Homo sapiens: one gene and its partners. The protein of the gene in region 2 purifies or fractionates together with the protein of the main gene of each other region. This does not show direct contact. Each region holds a gene or a part of one and is shown on either strand. Other genes may lie near its edges. The genes, in order: PPFIA1, CTNNAL1 and NPTN.

Region 1 (3,652 bases), on a different chromosome or scaffold from region 2:
TCTATTTTTAAAAATAAATATAAATTAAACTGAAATATATAAAACAATGACACAAAAGGTAGGAGGGAGTTAAATCCAGTTCAAGTATCTAAGGACTTGACCCTGGGAGACACAATGAGACTGTGCCTGGAAAAAAAAAAATATATATATATATATATATATATCTCAATCAAACAAAAAAAAAGCAAAAAAAAAAAAGTAGAAATTAATGCAATAGAAAACAAATGTAAGTAGAAAAAAATGTAAAGCCGAAAGTTGGTCCCTTAAAAGAACTTACAAAATTGACAAACCCCCAACAAGACTGATTAAGAGATAATATATGAATTACTGATATCAAGAATTATTAAAAGGGAACATCACTACAGATCTTGCAGATAATAAGGATTACAAACCACTTTAAACTTACAAATTGGAAAGTCTGGGTGGCCTGAACAAATCTCTAGCGGGGAAAAATGCTTTATCTAAATAGACACATGAAGAAATATTCAAAATCCTACATCTACCTATAAAATTAATTCTAAAATTTTTCCTTCTCACAAGGAAAACCCTGTACCAGCTGGTTTTGCCAAAGAATTATTTCAAACATTTAAGGAAGAAAACACAAATTTCGTAGGAACTCTTCTAGGGAGTAGAAAAAGAAGGAATACATTCCACCTTGTTTTAAGAAACCAGCATAACCTTGATACCAAATCCCAACAAGGGTACTGAAGGAAACTGAAATTATAAGTCAATCTTTCTCGTGAATATAAATGCAATAATCCTAAACAAAATACTACCAAATATAATCCAGTAAAAGGAGAATACATCAAGATCAGGTTGGAATTATTCTACAATTGTAAATTTTTTTTAAAAGGGAGGTGCTCTTTCTCAGGAGCTCCTGAAGTTGCTTCCCCAGGCTACAAACAATATGCAATTAAAAAAAAAAAAAAAAGCAAGGCGCAGTGGCGTGCGTCTATAATTCCAACTACTTGAGAGGCTGAGGTGGGAAGATCACTTTAGCCCAGGAGTTCAAGGCTACAGCGAGCTATGATGGTGCCACTGCACTCCGGGCTGGGTAATGGAGCAAGACCCCATCTCAAAAATAAACAAACAAAAACAGTTAAATTCCCACATAACAGAAAAATCACATGACTGTCTCAAAAGATGCAGAAAATCCATGTTAAGAAATTTAATACCTGCTCATGGTTTTTAAAAAACTCTTGGCAAACTAAGAAGAGGAGAATTTTTACATTTTGATAAAGAATATCTACAGGGCCAGGTGTGGTGGCTCACAGTGGTAATCCCAGCACTTTGGGAGACCAAGGTGAGAGGATCGCTTGACACCAGGAGTTGGAGACTAGTCTGGGCAACCGAGTGAGTACCCTTTTCTTAAATTACCAGATCTCAAGACAGACTATATCTATGGGAATTTAGACATTGTGCTATTTGTGCAAAGATGACAAAAAGATCAAAGGAGCAGAAGAGAGTCCAGAAACAGACCCACACACTTACAGTCACTGGACTGAGATGACACTGCATGTAGTACACTGGGGAAAGAATAGTCTTTTAAGAAATTATGCAAGGTCAACTAGATATCCATTTAAAAAAAGAAAGAGAGACTCTTGGCCCCATCGCATACCATAAACAAAGTCAATTTCAGATGGAAGATTAAAAAATAGTTTTTAGAAGACAATGTAGAATATCTCATGAACTTGACCAAGCAAATTTCTTAAACAGGACACAAAGAGCATTAAACATTACTGAAAAGATGGATCAACTGGGCTACATTAAAAATTTTACACTTCTATGTATCAAAAGATACAACTGAGAGAGTGAAAAGGCAAACACAAGAGTCTAAAAACAATCTGTCATGCACATATGTACTCAGAATATAGAGAAAACTCCTTCAAATCAGTAAAAAACAAAACAGACAACCCAATCAACAGATGGGCAAAAGATAACCGTTTCACAAAAGACATCCAGGTGGCCAGTGAACACAGGTAGAGATGCTTTACCTCTGCATGTTCCTGGCCATCAGGGAGCAGCAAATTCAGACCATACTGAGCCACCTACCAGCTAACAGCCACCAGAACAGCTAAAATGTAAAGACCCAACAATACCAAGTGCTGAAGAGCATAGGAGCAACTGACTTCTCATACATTGCTGGGGTAGTACAAACTGTCACAACCACCACTTTTGGCACTCTCTACTGAGGCTGAACAAATGCACACACCATCATTTGCATTCCACTTCTTTGTAGAAATCCAACAGAAGTGTACACATATCCTCCGGCCTGGGCAACATGGTAAAACCCCACCTCTACAAAAAATACAAAAATTAGCGGAGGGTGGTGATGCGTGCCTGTATTCCCAGCTACTTGGGAGGCTGAGGCAGGAGAATCGCTTCAACCTGGGAGGTGGAGGCTACAGTGAGCCGAGATCATGCCACTGCACTCCAGCCTGGGCAACAGAGTGAGACCCTATCTCAAAAAAAAAAAAGTTTATAGACATCTGCACCAAAAAACAAACAATATTAGGGGAGCACGTGTAAAAACTGGAAACAACCCCAAATGTCTGTGAGCAGTAGAAAGAATAAGTTCTGTCTGTTCGTGCACGGGATGACCAGAGAGCAGGTGAGAATGAGCAAGCTGCATCTCACAAACATGATGCTGACGACAGAATGAAGAAGCAAAACATACAGATTATTTTACTTCACTTAAACAAAGTCAAGAACAGGCAAAAGTAATCAATGGTGAAAGGTCAAGACCTTGGTTAGCTCTGGGGGACAACTACTGGGAATAGTTAGGAGGGGACTTCTAGGAAGCCTGATAATGTTCCATTTCTTGATCTGGGTGGTGGTATGCAAGTGTGTTAACTTTGTGAAAAGTCCACTGAGATGTATACTTACGATTTGTGAATTTTTCTGCTGTATGCTATAGTTATGTATATTTTTAAGTACACTCTAACTTGCCTCCACAATGTGCCAGGAGCACAAATGCACTTCCTGGACTCATTATCTGGTCACACTACCAGCCACCAAAGATGAACCAGATGCCAGGAAAGGGAAGGGTCCAAAACAAGTTTACTTAATAGTTTCCATTTTTGAAAGGCTGGAATCAGGTGCTCAGGTGGTAACGTGAACCGTTGGCATCATCATGTTATCCACTGAACTAGGCATTCCCAGGCTGCTACACTGAGCAGTGCCAGAAACAAATCACTGAGCAACCATGTCACCAGTGTGTGTGACAACCTCCACAGCCTGCGACTAACTGTACAAAACTCCTGTCACTTCCCTGACATGTCTTGTGTGCCCATTCTTTCCAAAACCTACCTTATTAAGTATATTAGTATTTGATATACACTTCAATACGTGTACCTTAAATTACAAATACAATAAAATCCTGGTAAAACATAAATTGGCTACTTCTTTTAAAATTGTAGTAATAAAATTCAACATAAATAAACTTGGTAATTTATAAGATTGAAATAAGAAAAATCTTAATGATTCTTTAATCCAACAAAAAAGGAACATAGAGCGCTAACGTCAAATTATTGTTGCTAAAAAGGAAACCCACGTTTGGCTTATCAATCTTTCAGGAGAACTGACTACAGCCAAGAAACACATTAAGGCTAGTACTTATTCATTTACTAATTTATCACTGCAGACCCATCAT
Region 2 (3,652 bases):
GACTTCTCTCTAACCTTGAAGGTAAGGCACAATGAGGAGAAACTCAGCTTTGGAGTCTTACTTCAGGAACAAGAAACGGTTTCACCTTGACGATTGTAGGGATTATCATACGAAGCTTTCTAACCAGAAAATAATAGCACACTCTTAAGAACTGTGACAAATTTTGCCCTCACCCAGTTTGAAAAACATCATAATTTTTGTTTCCAGTGGTAATGCAAACTACACAATCTAAAAGCCTCCTGCCCTACAAGACAGTAAGAGAAATCCCATGAGTCAAAAACCAAAGAATACCCTAAAACCCGAGCAGTAAGCAGGTGCCAAGGCTTGGGCTGGGGCGAGGCCGGGGAGAAGTCAGGGGTCACTGCCAATCTCCACAAGCTGAACGGCCTTGGGTTTTCACCCTTGGGTTTTCACGGATCCTCAGAGAGAGAAAAAAGACAGGGCTTTAGGCCCCAAGGGATGACATCTTCAATATAATGGGGGCCCGGAAAGAACTGTCAATAGGCAAAAAGAAACAATAAGGAAGTTTGTCTGTCAGTCAGCCTGGACTTTGGGTGGGGAAAGTAAACAAAACAAAAGCCTCCCTCCTGAGAATTCAAACCACAGGCTGGCCCTCATTTAGGCTACAGTTTGAATTTATATAAACTTCTTATGATGCCCAGCATAAACCATTCTATTAATTGAACTCCCAACCCTCTAGAAAAATTATCTTCTTCACTGTTGCTATCAAAACTTTTGATTTCTGTAATGGTAATTATCTACTAATAAAACAATCCAAGTATTCTTGTATTATAATACAAGGCTACAATATTCTTCAAACCTCCATACTGTTAAAAAGATTTTTAAAATAATAAACCTTTAACCAACTTATAGTGTTCAAGATCATTTTTTAAAGTCCTAAATATACCTGTGTGCCTAATGGATTGATTTTCTTACAAAAGCCCTCCTGTCAATTCTATTACATACACACAATAATGTGTCAGCTCATAGGCTAAGGATCTTGAGTAAAAAGTACTGGAATCTTAATGGAGAGGCCACAGGGTGAAGTATAAGTCAAGGTTTGGAAAGATCAGTCTGGCAGGCACAGTGGCTCACACCTGTAATCCTAGCACTTTAGGAGGCCGAGGCGGGTGGATCACCTGAGGTCAGGAGTTCAAGACAAGCCTGGCCAACATGGCGAAACTCGGTCTCTACTAAAAAAATACAAAAATTAGCCAGGTGTGGTGGCAGGGGCCTGTAATCCCAGCTACTCAGGAGGCTGAGGCAGAGAATCGCTTGGACCTGGGAAGCGGAGGTTGCAGTCAGCTGAGATGGCGCCACTGCACTTCAGCCTGGGTGACAGAGTGAGACTTGGTCTCAAAAAAAAAAAAGAAAGATCAGTCTAGTAGGAGTACATAAAATAGAATGGAAAGGAAAGACTTAGAGCCAGGCTATTGTATCAATTGTGGGTGTGAAATAGTAGGGACCTTACTAGTATAGTAGCCATAGGAACATTAAGAAGATGATTTGGGAAACATTAAGAAAACACAAAATTAGTACCTGACCAATGATAAGAAGGAAAGAACGAGTAAAAAAATGGCCTCAAAGTTGTAAACCTAAGTTGCTTAAAGAAAATCGAAGGGCATTGGAAGAGAGATGATAATTTTACTGTCAGACAACAGGAGTTTGAAATAACACAGGAATACACCAAAGATAAGTCGCAAGACATGGACTGGTAATGCAGACTTGGATGTCTTGTGTATAATGACAATAGCTGAAGCTCTACAGATAGAGGAATTCTGTGGTAGCCAGCCTTCAAGATCGCTCCCCATGATCCCCACCTACTGTTATTGACAACCTTGTGCTGTCTGTCCCCTCCCACATCATACCAGGGTTGGTATGGTGGAAGTGGTGGTATGTCACTCCCAAGCTTAGGTTCTAAAATAACTGAGGCAGCTGTCTGGGTTGCTCTCTCTCTCTGAGAGAAGCCAGTTGCCATGTCATAAGCAGCCCTTACTACACAGATAACTACGTGGAGAGGAAGTGAGGCCTCCAGCCAACAGCCAGCAAGGAAGTGAAGCCTGCCAACAACCATGAGAGGGAGGCTGGAAGCAGACCTGCAGTGCACTCAAGCTTCCAGGTAACAGAGGCCTGGTCAACACACTGACCGCTACCTCATGAGACACACTGACCCTGAGCCACCCAGTGAAGCCACTCCCTGATTGGTGCCCTCTCAAAAACTGACATAGTAAATGTTTGTGGTTTTAAGTTGCTAAGTTTGGGTTAATTTGTTACACAGAAATAGGTAGCTAATACAGAGTTTTCATAGCAAAGAACAGAGAACAAAAGTGCTTAGAATTAACCTTAAGGCATACAGAAAGGGCAGGAGGAAAAGTATCAGTTTGCATCCTATCATTAATAGCTAAAAGGATAAAAATGTTTCCTCTGATCCTCTGGAAAATGTTAATTTTTTTCTACACCTCTCAACCACAAAGGATACGACATATAAGCCTGCACATATGGCATTATTCAACCTTTCCTTTTTCTGACTAGACCCCAGGCATTTAACTCATAAGTACGTGGGACAGTAACATTTGGTTGGCTCCACCAACATGGGCAAATGCTTTCTTAACATTATAAAGTTGTTCAAAGTGTAAACTGTTCAGAAATCAGTTCCCTAAAAAAGTAACAAAGCTGTCTTACAGCTTCACAGGTATCATTTTTAATTTATTATATGTCATTACTAGTGCTGTGCCTTAATAGGAAAACCCAAGGTCAATCAAACACAAATATTTGTTGAACTTCCATATAAAACATAAATATAAACCTTGCCTGGTAGCCAAGTAAAAAGCAACAATACAATGTAAGAGTTCAACACAGGGAAGTAAGAATAAAAATTAATTATAATAATAACAACTAATATTTATTGAGCACTTACTATGTGTGAAATGATAGATGCATTATATCAAAACACCTCTATAAACCCTAACAGTCTCATTTTATAGATGAGAACACTGAGGTTTAGAAATGTTTAATAGATTGCCCAATATACCCTGCTTGCAAGTAGAAGCACTAGGATTAAAGTCTAGGCAATCTGACCCTAAGACTTTAGTGTTTTTTTTTTTGAGACAGGGTCTCTCTCTGTCATCTCCCAGGCTGGAGTGCAGTGGCACCATCACTGCTCACTGCAACCTCAACCTCCTTGGGCTCAAAAAATCCTCCCATCTCAGCCTCCCAAGTAGCTGGGACTGGAGGCACGCACCACCACACCTGGCTATTTTTTTTTCTTATGTTTTGTAGAGACAGGGACTCATTATGTTGCCCAGGTTGGTCTCAAACACAGCTCAAGCGATCCACCCGCCTTGGCCTCCAAGTGTTGGGATTACAGGTGTGAGCAACTGCACCCAGCCAGCTCCAGTTTTTTATCTACTACTTTATATTAGTTCCCTCAAATGAACACTGTTGACAAACAAAGAAAATGATTCGTAGGGGTTGAGTGGGCTAGAAACATTACAGGAGTGATTTAATGAAGTCTTAAATTTGTATGTGTTAAGAGAAAAAAAGGCTTCTATATTTTACAACTCCAGAAGGCATCATTCTCATACTCTTACCTGAGTGACACTAGGAGGAAGATGACATGTGGAGCCCATGAAACCTGACAGCTTCCAAAATA
Region 3 (3,652 bases), on a different chromosome or scaffold from region 2:
GTAGGTAATTCTGCTTTTATAAGGAAAGGAGCAAGGGGGCAGGAGAAGGAGGCGTGCAGGGTAAAAATATTGTTAAAAAAAAAATCACTGGGTTAATGTTCCCCATTTTCACATAGACAAGGTTTTCTTTTCCTCTTTCCAGAAGCAGGTTCTTTGATTCAACAGTGCCAACTGCAGCAGCCTCTCCTACCACTGCCCTACAAAGGACTCTTTTTTTACCCATAGGATCTTCAAGTGGCTACAAAGAACAGACACTAATTTGCTATTTTCCATCTAAGTATATAGACTCAAGGCCCATGTCTTACTACTTTATGTTATTACCAAATTCCTCATCAAAGTAAGATTTTACTATTCTTACTTTCTCTAGATCAATCAGCTCTTTAAGCTGGAACTGGCTATAGATCTCTCATTGTGTCCTCAAAGAGAAGGTGAAAAACCCAGAGGATCTTTCCAAAAGTGAATGTCCCCTCAATTATAACCAGGTTTGATGTGGGGCCAGAACTCTTCTTGGCCAGGAACGTTGGTTCTGTGGTGGCTTCTCCCTCTCTCTGCTTCTCAACATAAGGTAGCAAGTCACTTTCAAGAAAGAGAGAGAAGTGGCCACAAAAGTCCCGGTGTCATATGTCTCACGCATACCTGCTACAAGGAGAGGATTCTGAGCCAGCTGGTCAGCTCACCCCATCACTATGAGAAACCAGGTTGGAAGTTAGTTTCCTCTTTTTTCAAGACACAAAGAAAAGGCCAGTGTGAGTGGTCCCCACACTATGTCTGGAGTTCCCATGCTCTGGGATAAGGTACACTGTGCCAACAGCTACTCATCAGAGTCAAACCGTGAACAGGAATCAACTGCAACTCTGACTTCCAAACAGTGTGATGGGCTAAAAAAATAATAATTTGCAGCTTAGTGTCACCTGGCTCCTAACAGCAAAACATAAGAAGGAAGTCCCAGGCTGCTGCTTTTAAAGAGGAGACTAATTAGCAGGCCCAGTGAGGAGTACACTGCTGCAGTAGAGGGCTGTTATCAGAGAAGCACATGCCACGGTTTTAGAAAAGAAAAAGAGCTGGAACTATGAAAATATCCAAGCTTACATGCCACCCAACAACCAAAACACACCACCACACTGCACCCATGGCAACATTCCCATCACAACAAGATGACACCAAGTCACAGTTAAAGGAAGAGGCTGGGCAGACACAAACTTAAAACCATAGAGGTGAAGGCAGCTACTTAGAGAGCTTCAAACAGAAGAACAGAAGAAATAAAAAGTAGTTAGACTGGGGAGAGAAACAAAAATAGAAAGGCACCAGAGAAGAAATCAGCAAAAGTATAGCAGGAAACCTACTACAAAATCAAAGGGGAGGGAAAACCATTTCAACACTACCCTCCTTGGACTGCCTGGTTTTATGAGTTTTAATTTAAGCTTCCCAGTTCTCCCTCCCCAACTCTTCCCAACACAGATGATTTTGGACAGTCACGGATTTCCTCAAGTTCTTTGTTCCTGAGAAGAAAGACACAGAGAAGGGTTGGGGGATAAGGGAGGCAGAGAGAACGGCAAAGAAAAGAAGAAAAAAAGTTGCCACAGATGTTTTCATACACTACAACCAGAAGGGTCATGGGATTGAAAAAAAAACGAAGACAAGGGGTGGGGTGAGTGATCATACTGGGGAAGAGGGAAAGGATGCAGAAGGGAAGGGTCATTGGGCCACCTCTAATGACTACAGTACTACTACTGTAGGGTGCTGGACTCACTCTGAAGGACGCTTATGGTGGCCTGGGCTCGAATCCATGTTATGGAGGGGTTTTGCCTCAAGTCATTCCTCTTGGGGTCGTTGCTGGCCCTGCACTCGTAAGTCCCAGAGTCCTCCAAGGTGAGCCGGGTTATTCTCAGCACACTCACGCCGTTTGACCCGTAGGCGGTGTTTACGGTGACACGGCGCTTCCGAGCACCGTCCCACAGCTGTCTGAAAGACTCTGCCCGGTTGACTTCTGCGTACCACCACTGGATCTCTGGCGTGGGGCTCCCGACCACGTCACAGTACAGCTCAAAGGCGTCCCCCGTGAGCTTAGTTTCTGACATGGGCGACTTGACAAACCCAGCTAGAGGGAGGGGGAGCAGGAATGCAGTGACAGGCCAATCAGAAAAAAAAAAAAGAATCAACAGGTGTTAATAGTAATTTAAAGAAAAGAAAAGAAAAAAGCAAATGAGTTGCAAAGAACAAAAAAGGATTCATTTTTAAACTATAAAGAGACAGTACAGCAATTCATACAAGCTTTTAGAAGAAGAACCACACCCTGGGAAGCTTATGAAGCAAAGGCAGGCTAATTACAAGCTGGGGCAGCCCAGGTGCTGGCCAGGCAGAAGCAAGCCCACTGGAAAGCATTTTAGCAATGGGCCCAGCTGGTAGGAATGAGAAAGCCTCAGGTCTTGGGAAGAGCCTCTTTCCTTAGAACACAAACCATTTATTACCTTTTTAAACTCAGGCAAGTGATGAAAGATAACCAGAAGAGGCAGTAGTTTTATATGCCAAATCAGGATCTCTCTTTTGGATGGGCAAACGCTTTGTTAGAAATGCAGTGTCTTTTGCAAGCCTCAACAAGAAGTATTAAATGACCTACTGGTGCCTTCTCTTGGGATTCAGAGTTCAAATTTCAACTGAAAGAGTAGCAAATTTCTCTCTCACACAGGATTCTATCCTGGGTTCGATTAGACTTTCTCCACCTCCTATTCTTCCCTGGGCCTATGGCAAACAAACAACCCAGTTGTTTAGCGTTAGGCAGCCTCTTCCTGAATGCAGACCCTCAGGAGAACAAGACAGTCTGTACTTCACACCACAGTGAGATATTAATACTTTGTGGGTCAGCTCAGAAGTGGGACCAACAATACCAGCAACCCAACTCACTGCCAGCTAATGGAGGGACTGTGCCCTCCATAACCCCATAGATCCATTACCTAGAAAAATCTGAAAAGCTATGGTATTTGACAGGCTCCATACAGTTGAATTGCCTGGCTTCTAGAAGCCAGCTCAGAAGAATGAGAAATGTACCCTGATGAATTAAACTAAACACTAGGGTGAAAGCCAGGCCTCAACCAACACTCTTAGGAACTGCCCAGGAACTAAAGTTGATGCCTACCTCTAATTGCCCATAATTTGCTTGAGGTTACACTTCCATAAGACAAGGTGGAAATGGCAGAAAGAGTTAAAAAAAAAAAAAATCCAGGCTTAGTTTAAAAACTTGGAGTTAGGTCCATAGGAAACAAAATCAGAGTGCAAGCATACTCTCTCTTACCCTTCCACCCCACCTAGGGTTCATTCAGCATTTCTACTGATTCAGACAGTATCCGAAGGTATAAAGAGAGACACTAAAAGAGGGCATTCTGATTGGCTTGGAAACGTCCCCTGGGAGGCCTGCTGCATAAGCCAAGCCAGCCCCTGTGCAGTAAGCAGGGAGTGAGGTCAGGATCTGCCAACATCAAATTAAGAACATTCCAGAGGAAAGGATGAAATAAATGGAACTGTTTTCCTACAGTCCAGAAGCCAAGGATGTTAACAGGGCTAGCTGAAAATGGAGGTTACTAAGTGGAAAAATTCCTGTTTACATCCATAGCAGTATTTGCCTTTGGTGATAACCCCACACCATGGACTAAGAACA

What was found.
Region 1: the proteins of CTNNAL1 (region 2) and PPFIA1 purify together in Homo sapiens (tandem affinity purification; one study listed by IntAct). This does not show direct contact.
Region 3: the proteins of CTNNAL1 (region 2) and NPTN purify together in Homo sapiens (co-immunoprecipitation; one large-scale study listed by IntAct). This does not show direct contact.

What each region holds. Positions count from the first base shown.
Region 1 is NC_000011.10:70,273,550-70,277,201, reverse strand, and holds part of PPFIA1 (liprin-alpha-1), read right to left. Parts: intron 1-3,652. UniProt on the Homo sapiens protein: May regulate the disassembly of focal adhesions. May localize receptor-like tyrosine phosphatases type 2A at specific sites on the plasma membrane, possibly regulating their interaction with the extracellular environment and their association with substrates.
Region 2 is NC_000009.12:108,992,873-108,996,524, forward strand, and holds part of CTNNAL1 (alpha-catulin), read right to left. Parts: intron 2,120-3,652; exon of another isoform or gene 2,036-2,119; intron 1-2,035. UniProt on the Homo sapiens protein: May modulate the Rho pathway signaling by providing a scaffold for the Lbc Rho guanine nucleotide exchange factor (ARHGEF1).
Region 3 is NC_000015.10:73,595,272-73,598,923, forward strand, and holds part of NPTN (neuroplastin isoform b precursor), read right to left. Parts: intron 2,099-3,652; coding exon 1,751-2,098; intron 1-1,750. UniProt on the Homo sapiens protein: Probable homophilic and heterophilic cell adhesion molecule involved in long term potentiation at hippocampal excitatory synapses through activation of p38MAPK. May also regulate neurite outgrowth by activating the FGFR1 signaling pathway.